2 separate regions of the Homo sapiens genome follow, and region 2 is linked to region 1. A link means that fine-mapping ties the variant in region 1 to the expression of a gene that starts in the linked region. Tissue or cell type: cerebellum. Region 1 holds a variant in brackets; the other region holds the start of a gene. All regions are shown on one strand. Distances are from middle to middle.

Evidence for each region. PIP is the estimated chance that this variant, and not a neighbour inherited with it, causes the effect.
Region 2: it holds the start of CFAP100, and the variant in region 1 is fine-mapped to the expression of CFAP100 in cerebellum (GTEx, PIP above 0.99).

Annotation. Positions count from the first base shown.
Region 1 is chr3:126,433,863-126,442,040 of GRCh38, forward strand. It overlaps CFAP100 (cilia and flagella associated protein 100), which reads left to right. Exons shown (of 17, transcript NM_182628.3): 15 at 314-519; 16 at 1,697-1,790; 17 at 2,429-2,694. The coding sequence ends at 2,542. ZXDC (ZXD family zinc finger C) reads right to left here. Exons shown (of 10, transcript NM_025112.5): 8 at 7,903-8,084; 9 at 5,770-5,865; 10 at 3,739-4,599. The coding sequence ends at 4,513. LOC124906280 reads right to left here and starts at 320. Exons shown (of 1, transcript XM_047449418.1): 1 at 1-320. RefSeq lists an enhancer at 7,381-8,016. The variant C/CG (reference allele first, on the strand shown) is at 3,192.
Region 2 is chr3:126,391,400-126,399,571 of GRCh38, forward strand. CFAP100 (cilia and flagella associated protein 100) reads left to right here and starts at 3,510. Exons shown (of 17, transcript NM_182628.3): 1 at 3,510-3,579; 2 at 4,543-4,650. The coding sequence starts at 4,602. It overlaps CFAP100-DT (CFAP100 divergent transcript), which reads right to left and starts at 3,399. Exons shown (of 2, transcript NR_103789.1): 1 at 2,900-3,399; 2 at 1,633-1,894. LOC107986044 (a long non-coding RNA gene) reads right to left here and starts at 849. Exons shown (of 3, transcript XR_001740563.1): 1 at 784-849. RefSeq lists an enhancer at 6,406-6,915.

The sequences.
Region 1 (8,178 bases):
CATAGCCCTGTGGGGTGCCCAGGGTGCAGGGTTCCCTGGAGGAGGGGACTGGGCCCCGTTGGCTCACCAGAGGCAGCTGGGAGAGGGGCTGGAACCAGGGATCTGGCTGACTCCAGGGGGCCCGGGGGATAGGCTGCTCTGGCCAAGAAAAGCCAGTTCCCCAAGTTCTGTTTTAGCCCATGTTCTCAGAGCTCCCACTGTGTGCCAAGCGGTGGCCCCCACCCTGGGAGGTCAGCAGGCCACCGCTGAAGGCACTGGCATGGGGGTGGGTTTCCGCCTGCCAGCACCCTGCTGGAAGCCACCTCCTCCACAGGATAAGCTGCTAGAGAGCCTGAACTGCAAGGTGCTGGATGTGTACCGGCACTGCACCGGCACCCAGCAGGAGGCCAACCTGGGCACCGTGCAGATGCTGACCATCATTGAGCACCAGCTGGATGAGCTGCTAGAGAACCTGGAGCACGTGCCCCAGGTCAAGATCGAGCAGGCCGAGAGGGCAAAGGAGAAGGAGCGGCGCATCAGGTGAGCTCTAGGCTCTCCCTGCCAGCTGCTGTGTCCTGGCTGGCCCTGAGGGCAGAGGGCACATACAGGCCCCACCCTCAAAGCACTCCCAGGAGACAGGCCCCTCCTGCTCTGTGCTATGAGAGACAAAAGCCCATGTCTTGGGGGGATCTAGAGGGGCATCACAGTCAAGTGGGGGGTGGTTAGGGAAAGCTTCCTAGAGCAAACGACAGTGACTCGATGTGGCCAGGAGGCTCAGGGAGGGACAGGGTCTAGAAGATAGAAGAGCTGGAGCTTAGTTAGAGTGTGGCTAGCACGGTCAGCCTCAAATACATGGAACAGCAGTGGAGGGCTTTAAGCAGTGGGGCAAACACGGCCAGGTAGGGTGTGGTTAGATTCTTCCCTCTGGGGCTGGACTGGAGGGGCTGGAGGCTGAGGGCAAGGGCAGCTGCCAGCACCCAGGAGAGAAGGCATGGCTACAGCAGTGTTGCTGGAGCGGAAGACAAAGTGCAGAGGCTCAGAGAGCCTTGGGAGTTTCAGCTCAGAGGGGAGTGGAGGGGGGCAGATGGGCAGCAGCTTGCTATCTGTCGGGACACCAGCCTGAACCCAAGGTAGATGGGGGTTGTGGCTTCCCTGGCCTGTGGGCAGCCCGGTTCATCCACCCCGTGCAGGGCTCTGAGACAGCGCAATCTGCAAACATCCATCCGTCCCCCCAAGCACAGGGGCTTCTCCTCTGGGTCCCTGGTACCCTGCTCAGAGTGGGCACTAGACCAGGCTTTGATGACTGAGAGTATATATAGGAAGGAGACAGGACTCTCGCCCCAGGGGGATGCTGGCCTTCATGGTGGCAAGGGAGGCCACAGGTGCACAGATCAGGCCATGGGTGTAGATTCAGAGAAATGTGCCTCTGGGAGGGGTCTGCTGGATGAACCTTAGATTCAGCCCTTGCAGGAGGCCAGAGCCAGGGCCTCGGAGCAGCAGGGCCCTGGTTGTCCTCCTCTGGGCCTAGGCCACCTTGGCCAAAAGCAGCGGTGCTTTGGCTGTGGATAGGTATTGAGAACTTGACCTGGCAAAAGAGGTGAAGAGGAGCTGGGAGTTTTCTTGAGGGAGGACACGGCCTGGCCTGGGGACTCCGTGTGGAGATTACACAACACCTTCCAGGTCCCCCCAGTTTTCAATGTCATTTCTTGCCACCCAGACTTCGAGAAGAGAAGCTCCAGATGCAAAAGATCCTACAGGAGGAGCATCTGCAGCGGGCCCGGGCGCGCGCCCAGGCTGAGATCAAGAAGAAGGTAGGCAGGGTCGCCTTGGGGGGTCTCTGCTGGAGGGGGTCCCAAGACAGCATGGCAGCTGAGGTCCTGCAGCCCAAGCCCCTGATGCTACCACTCTGAAGGCATTCAATGAGGCTCTGAGGGAGACAGGCTGCCTTCGGAGCAAGGCCTCTCCCAGGACCTGCTTCCTGCAGGGGGCTCTTCCCCAGGCTGCCAGCCCATGGCCCATGCCAGGCTGAGCCTGGTTCAGCCATGCCCACCCACCCCAGCCAGGTACACTCTGCTCAGGAGCAGGGTCCCACCACCCTACCCACACTCCGGCCAGACCCCAAGCCCTGCTCACTGCCCGTCACTGGGGTCCCCCTACTGCTGTGTCCCAAGGCCCCCACCCTTCCTGCCTTCTGACCCTGGCAACAGGAAGCAGGTCCCTCTGCCCCCACATCTAATAGGTGGTGCTCCAGAGACCAGGCTTGATAAATGCCAGGCAGACTCACACCCCCAGTTATTTCAGAGTTAACTCCAGCCCTCAGCCTGCAGGGCTGACCAGAGTGGCCTGGAGGTGACTGGAGCTGCTGGGCCTCTCCCTGCACCAGGGGCAGGGGTATATGGGCATACGGCTCACTAGGCAGCAAGGCTCACTGGGCTTGTTTCCCCTGCAGAGAGGCAGGACACTGGTATGCCGCTCACGACCCCCAGCCCACAGGATCAAACAACAGTCTGAGCACACACTGATGGACAAGGAGGAGGAGGAGCTGCTATTTTTCTTTACTTAATCTTCGCAGACCATAGCTGTTCTGGCTGAAGGCTTAGCAAAGATGTTGGCAGAGGAAGCAGAGACTGGGCTGGGTCTCGAGTGGCCCAACTGAGTCCTCTCTGTCTCCTGTGTGCTCCCTTCCTCACCTGAATAAATTCATGTCTCTCTGGAGTCTTGAAGGCCTGCTTAAGGATGCAGCCACCATTGCCAAATCTCAGCACCCCGCCGGTTCATCATTTAACCCTAAGCAGATGCTTGAGGGCAAGAGCATGACACCTTGGTTCCCATCTAAAACAGCTGCTCTGCGAGACAAAAGCTAATTCCACGCTGAGTGTAGTGTGAGATCAGCCTCTGTGCAAAGACCAAAGAAATACAAGCAGGCAGCTAGGTATATGGCAGGGCCAGCACTACCAACTAAAGGAGAAACAATGGGCTGAATGCCATATATGTAGCTACTTGAATTAAGCCAAGGTGAAAAACCTTCGGTGCATGACTATAAGAAAACTTTCATTCATTTGCACTAGGAGTTAGGCCCATCACCGGCAGGGAACCTTGGTGCCCAGAACACTGGGTGCCAGTCCCAGTCACTTCACGGTGACGTTCCCAGGGAGGCACATGGGAGAAAAATAGAGGCCGAGAGGGCATTCCTGGGGGAAGACTCTCCTCCC[C/CG]ATGGAGATGGGGTGGGTGCGGCTCCACCCGCCATGGTGGCCAAAAGCCTCCCATGGAGGGAGGAGGACTCCGGGCCACCTTGGGGCTAAAGAGCCTGCCAGGTGGGCAAGTTCTCCCCTCGCCTTTAGTTGGTGACAGAGCGCCGGTCTGTGGAGAAGACCCATTTGTCGACGAGGTGTGGATTCTTCCACGTGGAACAGCACCTGGGGACAGCACCTCAGAGTGAGACAAGACAGAGGGAGGACTCACTCAAACTTGATGTCACCCCCAAATTCAAGAAACAAACACAGGGCAGAGTTTGAATGATTCAGTCTGAGAATCAAAACAGCCTCTGAATGAACACATACTTCAAAAGGCACAAGGCAAAAAAAAAAAAAAAAGTCATTTAGGAGTGACCCTGTGTCATTGCTAAGTTGACAGACTTACAAATAAACATGGGCAAGGTGATCACCTTGTCTCCTTTTACAAGACAGACCTCACTCGGTAAAAATATACACTGACGTATTATGTGCACATCAACCTCAATAATAAAACATACACGCGCCATCACAGTCCTACACATAATTTATGGTATTCAGAACATCACTTTATAAACTGTTGCCAAATTACCACTTAAACACTAATATCCAAATACAGAATTTAGAAAATTATTTTAAATTTTAACTCTACCATCCCCCCGAGCTCTCGGCTATGAATTTAGTCTGGGAAGAGGGCTCCGTAATAGGCCACTGAGGTCCTCTGTCCCACCACATCATCCTCCCCCGAAAACTAGCTGCCCGACTGCTCTACCAGACTTGGGCTAGAATTTGGCTTCACGGTGGCAATGGGACCACCTGGGCCCTACAGTGTGGCAAAATCAACTTGCCCACAAACCCCATCCCAGGTGCTGGGATGCTAACACACTGAAGCTGAAAGACCACACTTGGTTTTGCCACAGATCAAGCTGCATCTGACTAGACAGCCTGTTCTCTACCCTATTTCCTGCAGAAGTCTTTTTCTTTGTAATGCAACAAGTGCTACACAGCTCAGATCCAACGGGACACGGGGAAAGAGGCTGTAGTGCACCTAGCCCTGCTGAGGGAGACCCTTGCCTTGCCAAAGCACTTTGCTCACAAAGGCAGTTTCAAAGAGTATAGCCCGAACTCATTCCTGGTAAAACAAAAGGAAAACATTTTTGATAAATGTACCCAAAAGTCTCAAAAGGGCTACGCTGGTCTTCTGAACGGAAACCAAATGAGGTCTCCCCAGGCTCATGTCATGAGTCTCAGGGAAGGTGTGTCCTAGACCGTGGCCTTGGGCCTGCCCAGGCCGAGGCTGCCGTCACTGCAGATCCTGCAGGTTGATAGTGCTTCCTGGGAACTGGGTGGCCTCCGGTCCAGCAGGGCCTCCAGATGAGGGGAGCACCTCCTGCAAAACCAAGCATTGTCATGAAGAGGGAGGAGGGAGGGGAGGCAGAGGGATCCTGTGGCTCCACACAGCAGGACACTGACCAGGCCCGTGGTGAGATACCTGACTTCTCTTACTCAAAACTACAGGCTCCCCTTATTCTAAACACATGTTCTTTGATGAAAAATGAACTCAATACTGTACTGTAAATTTTTCAAGATTGTTCTGTCTGCACATTGACGTATACCCTCACATGTTCATATACCCATATGCCTTTTTACAGAAACAAAATCATCTTTACTTCTGCAACCCTTTCTCCGCACTTCTCACGCGGTGAGCACTCTCCCAGGTATTAGGTGTCCGTCCGCCTGTGCCCTCACAGCTGACCAGGATGTGGCCCAGGGCTATGGAGGCCCCATCTAGCCTGTCTCCTCCTGCTACAAGAAGTGTTCCTGCTGTTGCACCATTTGACTCCGGGCTACGGTGATTATGTCACTACCTTATTTTTTCAGGAGCAGTCCCAGGAGGGGGCTGCCAGGCAGGATGGAGCAGACACTTCTGAAGTTCTCTGATCCATGCTGCCAAACCGCCCTCCAGCTCACCCCTCTGCAGCCTGGGTGCCCGGCCCTCTGCTCCCACCAGTGCTTCTGTCCAAGTTTGGTTTTGATTGCGAGGGAAATGCTGAATAGCCCAATTTGAATGCAAAAAAACTAAAACACAATTTGCATGGCTTATTGTAAATATATAAACACGTAAGGCAAACTGTTAGAAATGTGATAAGCTATACGCTTTCGCTATTTCATATCAAACTCTGAATCATTCACTGCCACCCATCCTTAGCTTAACCACGTAAGCAAACTACTGAATTCATCCGAGTCTATTCTCCCACAGGCTGGGCCCTGGCCAGCCCTCTTCCCAGAGAATTAACTGGAATTCCTAGGCACAACACTTTCAAGAGCATATTAACTTCTCCTGCTTTGTCTACCAGCAGGAGCTGCAGCGTCCTGCAGATCTGAGCTCCACTCACCCACCTTCTCCAGAAGGCAGCAAGACATCCTGGCAACCAACCCACTGAGCCTCCCAAGCCACGCGGCCTCAGTGACCAGCCTGCAGCTGTGAAGCCAGGCTTCTGGAAGTCGAAGGCTCTGCGAGTCTCAATAAGAAAAACAAAGGGCAGTAAGGCATCCAGACCTGGAGGACGTAGACGGGCAGGTCCACAGTGAGGAAGGGGAGGAAGGTGGCTGGGCCGCGGGCCGAGGGCAGGACACCTTCGCCGGAGGGGTCATCCTGGGAAGGCAACACAGAAAGGCCTGTCACATGTCTGTGAGAGTGCAGCAAAGGTCCTCGTCTCACCTGAGAAGTCTCCTCCAGCTGCAATGCGTGGCAGAACCAGCCCACCCCCTGTATTCCAAGGGAGGCCCGAGGACCCAGCAGGAATTGTTTATGGGGGCTGGGTACTACCTGTTCCCACCTGGTTCTCATTCTGTCACCTTGATCCCAGCAGCTTTTGCTGGGCCTGGAACCTTCTGCTCTCCAGCTCCTCCCCTCAGTCAGCCCAAATACTGATTTCCCTCCTAAGGCACGCTCCTCAACTCCTTGCAGGTGCCCTGGCACGCCCTGTACCCCCACCAACCTTGTGTACCCAGAGTGCTCTCCAGCAAATCCTCGGGCCCCACAGAGGGCCTTCCCTGCATGCCCCAGCTTGCCTACGGGCCAGCTGGAAGGACCAGGGCAGGTAGAGGGGCTCCTGAGAGGGGAGGCTGCCAGGCCCCTCACAGTCCAGGCTAGAAACTTCATCTGTCCCACACTTCGCCTGTCCTGCACCTGCATGTCCGCCCATGGCCATTCACACCCCGAAGCGGAGCTCCTGGTGCTGCTGCTCTGCACCTCTCATTCCTTCTGTTTGAGAAGCTCCTGTGTGTCAAGGTCTGCACTACTGTTCCCATTTCATAGATGACAAAACTGAGGCCCGGAGTGCTTAAGTAACCAAGACTACGCTAGCTGGTAAGGGACAGAAAAAGAACTCAAACCCAGGTTTAATCAGGCATCTCTTAAAAGTATACCCCCTACTTGCTCCTGTTCTGCCGGTGGCACCAGCTTCCCTACCGTCTCCCTATTGCCAAGCCTCTGGTCCTGACTCTGTACCTCTGCCCTGCCAGCTGAGGCAGTGTTTCCTTGGATGGTCCTCCCCCTCCCCCTGCCCCTGCTCCTGGGGAGTTCTTACCTCTTCAGAAGCTGGAAACAAAGGACCAGTGCTCCTGCCCCTCTCTAAGACAAGCTTCAGCCCCCATCTGACGCTCACCGCTAGCTTCCAACCAGCACAGGGCCACCCCCAGCTGCCCGCAGCCTCTTCCCTGCCCCCTTCCCAGCCCACCTCTGCCCAGGCTGCCCCTCCTCTTGCCTCTCTGAGCCCCAGGCCTGGTCCTGTTTCCTTGGCGAGACTCTCCCAGGACTCTGAACCCACAAACGTGCCTGTTTCCCAACTCAGAGCCAGCGTCACCTCCACCCTCCGCACTTCCGTGGGGCCTGCAACCGCATCCCCTGCCACAGGGAATCTACAAAGTGGAGTGGTGAAGAGGGGCACACACCTGGGCCAAACCCAGACAGCCCCGGCTTGTATATCTCTTCTCTCCCCAAATCCTTCCAAATCATCTTCCCTCCCCATTCCAGCCCCTCAAACTGAGACTGAAGATGCAGGTGTGCTCAGGGCTGCTGAAGCAGGTGTGCTCAAAGACCTCCTGGAAACTGGCCACAGCTGCAGGTATCTGTGGCCCGGACAGGCTGGGAGGGGCCTGGGCCTGCCCTGGAGGGGCTCTGTTTCGTAGGAAAGAAAATAGAAAAACACTGAAAAGACCCCCACCACCTTCAGCATAGAAAGGCTGCTAGTGCGCCACAAGCAGGCCGCCCTAGAAATGGGGTGGCTGAGACGGCCTGCGGAGCCCTTTTGCCCCAGCCCTGCAGAAGAAGGGCAGGGTGGCCTCAAACAGATCTCATCCTGCTGCAAAACAGCCCTGGGGGCCTCGGGCAGGGAGGCGGGCTACTCTGGGGCTAGACGCAGGGCTGTGCACAGACAGGTTCAGGAAGTGGATGCACGGTCCCAGCAACACTCAGAGCTTGAGCAGATGCAGGACAGGCTGGGAAAAAGGGAGGAGCTGGGCTGTGAGGAGACAGGACTTGGGGCAGTCTACAGGGGAGGATGCACGAGGGGCAGGCAGGCAGGGGGTGCTGCGATGGGCAGGGGATGCAGCATGCCGCACACTGCTCAGACCTGCGTGACCCTCCCACCCCGCCTACAGCTGGCCTGTGTGACTGGCCAGCTCTCACCTGCACCAGCTGGACCTGGACGCCCTGCGCCCCGCACTGCACCCCAGCTGCTGGAGCTGGTCCTGGCCGTCCTCCGCTGGGCACCACGAGGCTCCCACACAACCAACTGTTCTGGCTTGCATGGAAATGGGGAGGACTCATTTTGCCTTCTTTTATTTTTCTCTGAGTAGACTGTGAGGCTCCTAAAATGAAATATAAAAACGAGCACACCCAATCTACAATCTACCAGTCAGGTCTGCCCTTACCAAGGTCTCACTATGGGGAAGACAGCCTTCC
Region 2 (8,172 bases), 42 kb before region 1:
CACTTGGCAATGTGGACCCCTTTCTTCTTCTCCTTTTGAAAATATTTATTGAGATATAATTTACATATCTAAACTTCACCCACTTAAAGTGCATTTTACTATATTCAGAGTAAATCTAATGTTCACCATAGTCTAATTTTAGAACACTTTCATCACCCTAAAGAGCAAAATCCCATCTCCATTAGCCACCACTGCCCATTTGCCTGTTTCCCCAATTCCATCTAGGCGCCTTCATAGGATATGTGGTCTCTTGTGACCACATATGAGCCCAGTCTTACTCTGGGCTCCAAGACCTTCTTTTTTATTCCACTAGCACTGTTTCTCTGACACTGTGGTCAAATGTGATATGCCTGGGATGTGGATGCCAAAAGTCATCCCTGTTTTTTCCTAGACTCCAATCAAATTATCCATCCATCTGAGCTGGCAGGAAAGCAATCTGATTAATGTGATTGCTCACAAAATATAAAAAGCATGCCAGGCTAGAGCACCTGGCAGGCACTGGTTGGGGACACGTTCCCAGAGAGGGAGGGGGGATGGGGCTTCAGACACTCTTTAAGGACTTTGCAGCTTTCCCCTGAAACATGGTCCTGCAGGCCACAACCCATGCAGGGGCTCCTAGGTCAGTGTAAGTAGTGCAAAGAGCTCATATCACTGCCCTCCCTGTGGAAAGCCCTTGACTCACCGTGAAGCACGGTAGACATGGCTGTCATTCTCCATAACCTACCACCTCTCAGCAAAAGGAAAACCCCCATGTGAGAGATCTGGGCATCTAAGGCATTTTACCTTGAAGGTGACTCTCCAATCCAGCCTGGCCTGCTGTGCTGTAGAACAACGGTGAGACCAGGTGCTGCAGGAAAGAAATACAAGCTGCTCTCTCAGGCTTTGTCGTTCTGGTAGACCTCTGAATACCCTGTCTGGGTACAGGACTACTCCTGACCCCCCTGGTTTCTGAGTCCCTCCTCCCACGGCAGAAGCCAAAGATCTTGTGTGGAAGGCGGGAGGTGCAGGCAGGCGATCCAGGTGCTGCCTACCGGTCAGGAGTGCATAGCAGACTTCGGATCACAGCATGTTCTCTGCCAGAACGCGCCTGCGATGGCTTTGGGCTCCGCTCCAGGCTACAGCATCTCCCAGCTTGATTCCCTATCGTCCTACAGAGTCTGGGGGCACCCCCATGTCCTTTTCTCCCCCAAGTGGCTATAGTTGCTTTCTGTTGTTTATTCCCGAGAGCCCAGACTGATATACCTTCTTTGAGGAGGAAAATACGAAATCTGAAATACGAATTTCTCCTTTAAGAAGATTGTTAGCTTTTCCCAAAATGTTTGATTATGAACATTTTCAAGCTTCAAACATACAGAAATGTTGGAAGGATTTTGAAGCAGACATCCACATGCCCACTGCCTGGGCTGGACAGCTCACAGGCCACTACGATTCACCACACAGCCAGCCAGCCACCATTGCTCCACCAATCATGCATCTGATTTTAAAAATTAGCTTTTAATCAGCAAATGGTATTTCTAGTTAGACCTGTTAGGCTAAGACTAAAAGTTCCAAATCAGGTCACGTTTTCTAGGTGGTTTTCTTTCTAACCTTGTAAGCTACCAAGAGCAAAAACAAAGGCCAGAACACACAAACTGACAGATAACTTGCCTTTATTATGAAGTACACCTTTGGACTTGTGGGGTTTTTTTCCCAAAGCTTGTGCATCATTGTCTGGGATAACTGCATAAAATGGAAGGACGATTCCTGGTGAGAGGCAGTGTGTTCTAGGTAAGAGCAAAGCTGGAATCCGCTGTCTCACTGTGTCCCTGCTCTGTCCACACCGGCAACTCATGCAAAGGCAGGGTGATCATGCAGGTGAAATGGGTGGATTGGTGTCAAGTGCGTGGAACAGTACCTGGCACATAGAAAACACTCTGTAAGGTTCATGGGGAGATTCACGACTGTTCATAAACTGATCTGTTGATGACAATGAATGGGCAGGAGCCTGGGTACCTTTGTTCTCTTTGGGTCACTTATGTTCTAGCTTCCTAAAAGTCTCATTAGAGCACCTTGTATTTAGATAAACCATTACAAAAACACTTACTTTTCTACTTGAGTCACCAGTTTATGAAGTGCTTCTTGTGGTTTGCTAAAACCTAAATCGGAGGGACAGGTTTTTGTTCTGCTTTGATGGTTTGTAGGGAGATAAGGCTGCAGAGGTAGGCTGGGGCCGGGTCATTGAGGACTTTGAATGTCAGTGTAAGGAGCCTCTCTCCTAAGGGTAAAGGGACAACTTGTCTTTCAGCACATTTGACAATAGCAGCTGTAACGAACACACACGTGCACACATGCACACACACACACTACATGTGCACACATGTGCACATGCACACATGCACAAATCACATATGTGGCTTAACACAATACAACATTCTTCCTCCCTTGTGCAAAGCCCACTGTGGATATTGCAAGTTGGGACACTATTCTACCAGCGAAGATTCAGGGATCCCTGCTCCTTCCATCTTGGGAGCTCCTCCTCACTCCCACCCCCAGCTCCAATGGAGTTCCTGTTGTGGATGTGGTCTTCCCACCCACTACACCGGCCTTAGGCAGAGCCTGGCACAGCTGGGATCCTCACTGGGACTACATTGCTGGGCTGCAGACTGCTCCAGAGTCCCCCCAGAAGCCCCTAAATGTCCCTGAAAAGATGAGTCACTGACTGTGCTTTCAGCTCCAAGCAGCCTTTATCAATCTCTCAATCCCCATAGATACTGGGAAAATCTAGGAACATGTTCAGAACTCAAAGAGGGGTCTTCTGCTGCTGCTTTTTGTGGGGAGACAGGATCCCTGAGCTGGGGGACCAGACATCCTGGTGCCCCTGGCTTCAAGCAGCTGGTGGATCTGCGCGCTCAAAACTTGCCCTGGTCTGTATGGCCTCATCCTCTCGCTTGTCCCACTATGATGGATCTCGCTCGCTCCGTAGAGCAGTGGCTTTGCAACCCTAGCCAGCACTGGGGTCGCGCGTGGACTTGTCAGGACACACATTGCTGGGCTCCACCCCGAGTTTCTGATTCTGGGGCGAGGATTGAAAACTTGCTTTTCTAACGAGTTCCCAGCATTTTCGATGCTGCTAGTCCTGAGACCATACTTTGAAAACCGCCCCTCTAGAAAGTGCGATCCCTCCCCAGGAAAGAAGCAGGGCTATTTTTGCTCCAAAAGTATCCATCCTGCACGCCCTCTTCAGTGCTTGGCACGTGGCGAATAAACCAATCAGGATGAAAGGAGCCAACCCAAGTGCGGAGTGTTGAACCTCAGAGGAAGAAACCCGCGTTCACCAGGCCCAGGCCTGGGCCAGGCGCTGTCCTGGCGGCGTCAGGGAGGACATCGTGCCCAGAGCTCGGACCCAGCAGCCCGGCCCCGCGCCCTCCCTGTCCCGCGGCCCGCAGGCCCAGCCCTCAAGCGCCCAGCCTCCGCGGCCTTTGTGGCGTCACAGCCAGCCTGAAGAATGGTTGCCTTGGAGACGTAAACCCAAGAGCCCTGCTCCTGGAGCTGAGAACTGCAGCGCGGAGGCTTCGGAGCGAGCCGGGGCAGTCGGGGTCGGTGGGTGCGCTCGCGGTCCGGGGAGAGGGGGCGCGCGGGGTCCGTGAGGGCGCGTGGGGGCGGCGGCAGGGGTGCGAAACCAGGGCCCGAGGGGCGCGCGTGGCCGGGAGCGGACTTGCAAGGCGCCTTCCAAGGCTGCCCGCTCGCATGCCACTTGCTTGAAACACACCCATCTACCATCCACCCCATCTGTCCTACCATCCCTGTGCACCTCGCTGTGTGGCTCGGGGCCTTGCAGAGCGCGGGTGTTAGGAGGCGACCCTGCGAACCCCAGGCTCACCCAATAGGGGGCTGCAGCAGGAATGCGGCAGGAATGGCACAAGCTTAGAGTGGGGGCCCTTTCCAGAGGCAGCCCCTCCTGACTGTGACTTTGGACACCTCGCTGAATCTCTGCTTCCTCCCCTGCAAAAATGAAAATTCATTCAATGGATGAAGTTAAGAAGTGCCAAGGGTATGTCAGGAGCTTGGATGAGCAGAAAAGACCCCCCTGTTCTCATGGAGCTCACATTTTAGGGGGAAATAGACAACGAATGGATTTTTAAAGTGATAATCAGATAGTGGGAATTGCAGAGAAGAAAATAAAGGCCACATGGGGGTGGGGAGGAAGAAACCACTTTGGATGGGATGGTGAGAGGTCTCTCTAAAGAGGTGACATTTGAGCTCGGAATTGAAGAGAAGGAAGCCCAGCACCCCCAGCTGGGTATGGGAGAATATTTTTTGGCCGAGGAGGCCGAAAATGCAAAGGCTTGAGGCCAAGATTGATGTGTTCTAAGCACAGAAAAAGTAGGCAGCTAGAGCCAAGTCCAGGAGGTGAGAGTGGACCCTCGGGTGGGAGAGGCAGGGAGCCGGCAGGTGTCCCCACAAGGTGAGCCCTCAGCAAATGTCGGTGGCTGTCAGCCACCCAGGGGGAAGGAAGCTCTGGGCTTGGGGACCACCAGGCTCAAGCACTGTGTCACTCCTCAGGTGAGGATCTCCTTTAGAAGAGGAGAAGCCTTGCATCAACCTCTTGGGCCTCAGCCAAGATGTCTGAGATACCGTCCACTATAGTCTCCAAGAACATGACCAATGACAGTAAGTACCGGGCCAGGGTGGGCACTCTCAGAGGTCAGGGGCAGCTTCGGAGCCTGTCCAGCTCCCTCACAGGTTAAGGTAGCTCTAAACCAAACACTAGGCAGGAGTCATAGATCTGCCTACTTCCCTTGAAACAAGGCATATGGATTGCCTGCAGCTGCTGTAACAAAGCACCACCACAAACTGGGGGGCTGGAGTCACAGACATTTGTTTTCTCAAGCTCTGGGGGCTGGATGTCTGAGATCAAGTTGTCCAAAAGGCTAGGTCCCTCCAAGGGCTCTGAGCGAGAACCCATTCCGGGCCTCTCTCCTGGTTTCCAGAGCTTTGCAGGCAATCCTTGGTGCTCTTTGGCTTGTAGAAGCATCACTCCCATCTCAGCCTTCCTGCCCATGTGGAATTCTGCCTGTGTGTGTCTGTGTCCAAATTTCCCCATTTTACAGGGACCCCATCACATTGGATTGGAGGCCTACCCCGCTCCAGAATGGCCTCAGCTTAGTGAATTACAGCTGCAAAGACCTTATTTCCAAACAAGATCACATTCTGAGACAGTAGGGGTTGGGACTTCAACATACGAATTGGGATGACACAGTTCAACCCACAACAGACCATGAGGAAGGTGTCACCGTGAAGGTGAGCTTCTCTCAGCACCCCTCTGACCACAAATGCCAGGCTGGGCTCCAAGGAGGTGGTCAGCTGGCGCTAGGCCCTGGATGAAACATGCCTGCCCTAGTGGAATTGCATGCATTTGCCAAGATCTCACACAGGGCGACGCTGAGGGAGGCTGCCCAGGCCTACCTGGGGCCCTTCAGCTTTTTTATTGGAATTTAATTTGGTTTTGACCAGGCATAGTATTCCATGGTTCAAAATTCAAAAGTGTGTTAAAAGCCCCTCATTGTGAAAAGCCTCTCCCACCCTGTCAAAGGCATACAGTGCCCCTTCCTTAGAGATGGCCACTGTCCCCTGTCTCTTCTAGGCTACCAGCTCAGTGCACATACAGGCAAATGTGTGTAGATGAGGTTTGTTCTTTTCTTACACGGAGATCACACAATGAAAACCCTGTCTGCACCTTGATTTTTTTAATTAACCCATACATTGTAGAGACTGTTCCTTATCAATACATCAAGAATTCCCTTATACTTTTTGTGCTTTTGAGTAGAATAGTAATCTTTCAGTATGGCTGTATCATAATTTATTAACCAATTCTCTGTTCATATGGGTGATTAGCTTGTTTCAGAAAGTGTGCTGCTATAAACAGTGACCCCCACCATTACACTTAGGTGTGCACACGCTCTCTCGTTCTTTTTTTGCTCCAGAGTAAATTTTAAAATGAAGAAGGGCTGGAATAAGGTTTAAAAACAAAGATGGCTTTGAAATGTTTATAGATAACAAATTAACTCTCAATGTGCCCATAAAACAATGCAGATAATTATGCTACCACAAGACAGTTGAAGGACATGTAAACTATATTGATTTGTTTATTGGTATGAGGGGGAGTGCCTAGTTGGGGTACCCTATGACCCTGTGGCATTGGTAATTCCTCGAGATTGATTGAGGGCCTGTGCATTTGTGAGAAAACCAGGCCAGACAGGCAGAGCCAGGATTGGCACCCAGGGCCAGGGGTCTCAGAGTCAGGTGGGTCAGGGAGGTTGGCATGGGCAAGGTGGGCAGGGGACCTGGCCAGGGGCTTCAGTCAAGAGGACTGCTGAGCTCTGTGTCCTGGGGTCAGCTGCAGGAGCTGGGACAAAGGTAGGGGCCAAAATGACACTGAGCCACCTGGAGTGAGAGGTTTGGGGATGCTGAGCCAAGTACAGATAGGACCCCCCCTCAACCAGAGGGCCCAGGGCAGGGGCCTGGAGGCCAAGTAGGGAAAGGGCATTCTAGGCGGCTGGCCAGGCCCAAAGGCCCTGAGGTGGGAGTGGGCGTGGTGTGTTCAAGGGAGAGACAGGAGGCCAGCATGGGCCAACTGGGTAGGGCCTGTGGCCCGGGAGGACTATTGGCCTCTGCCCAGATGACGGGAAGGATTTAAGAGGGAGACTGCTCAGTGTCTAGCTTTATGACTTTTGTGATGAGAACGCTGTTCCCTAAGCCTTGGCAGAGGGGCTGGTTTGGCCACAGCCTCCTTTGAGGCATCAGGGCGGGCAGGGGTGGGGGCTGCAGGAATGCCCGGAGCTCTGGCCCTGCACCCTCAGCACCCAGCCCAGTGCGGGGCCAGTTCCAGGAGAGGCACTGGGGTCGCGCGTGGACTTGTCAGGAGAGGGCCTGCGGCTGGTCCCTCTGGGCCAGAACCCTGCCTGAGCCTCACTGTGGGTGTGGAGAGTTTGTTCCTTGAGCGGCCAAATATATTTCCCAAGACACCAGGCTCCAGGTACAAGACTCCAGAAGGAGCAGGTTGGGAGAGGCTTGCCCCTGCTGAAGGAGCCGTGTGCATGCGCGTCAGGCCAGGATGCCCTGCAGGCTCTCACTGCTGCTTCTCAAGTGCACGTCCCCCACAATGGGAGCATTCAGGAAGGGCATGGGGTCTAGAGAGGTTGTTAAACCACAGATGGCCAGGCCTTCCCCCTGCCAGTTCTGGCTATGAGGGATGCGAAGGGCTGGAGGCAGGAGTTTAATTTGGCAGTGTGGAGAAACATGATCTTCAGTAATCTAACCTTCATCTTGGGACATCCGAAGCCTGGCCTGGTGGCCTCGTGGGCAGAGTGGGCCATCCACACATGCAGCCCACATCAGGCCACTCAGGGACCCACAGTCACTTCACTAATGTTCATGGAGCACCTACCGTGTGTCAGGCACTGTGCTGGGCTGGGGCACAGAGGGCCATGAGACGGAGGCGCCTGCTCTCTGAGCATTTAGTAGAGTGCAGCAAACAGCTCTCAACTTCACCGGCTCCATCCATTCCTGCAGCCCTGGCCAGGCCAGGCCTGGTTCACTCCCACTCAGTGTCTTGGCACTGCTGTGTCCTCCACAGGGAATGCTCTTCTCCCCAGTTTCCCTGGGACTCCCTCCCTCACACCCCACAGGAGCTCATTTAGATGTCAGCTCCACAGGGAGGCCTCCCCTAAACAAGGTAAAACGCGGTGCCCCACCTGCCCTACATCCCTCATTGCTGTTCCCTGTTTCATTTTCTCAGTGGCACGTTCTACCCTCTGGCCTTTTGACCCTTCTTCACCTGTGTTGCTTACTGTCTCACTCCCATCCAGCAGTGACATTTGTTCCCCCAGAGCCTGGAACATCACAGGCCTCAGTCAAAACCTGTTAGCCTGCAAGCTCTCCCTCTAAGATCAAGAGCAAAACAGTGATGCCCACCTTCACCACTGCTGTTCAATATTGCACTAGAAGTTCTAGCCAGAGTCATTAGGCAAGAAAAAGAAAAAAAGAAGTAAAAGACCCAGACTGAAAAGGAGGAAGTAAAACTATTCACAGATGACACAACCCTATATATAGAAAATCTCAAAGAATCCACAAGGAAGTTACTAGAGCAAATGAATGAACTCAGCAAAGTTGTGGGTTACAAGACCAACACAG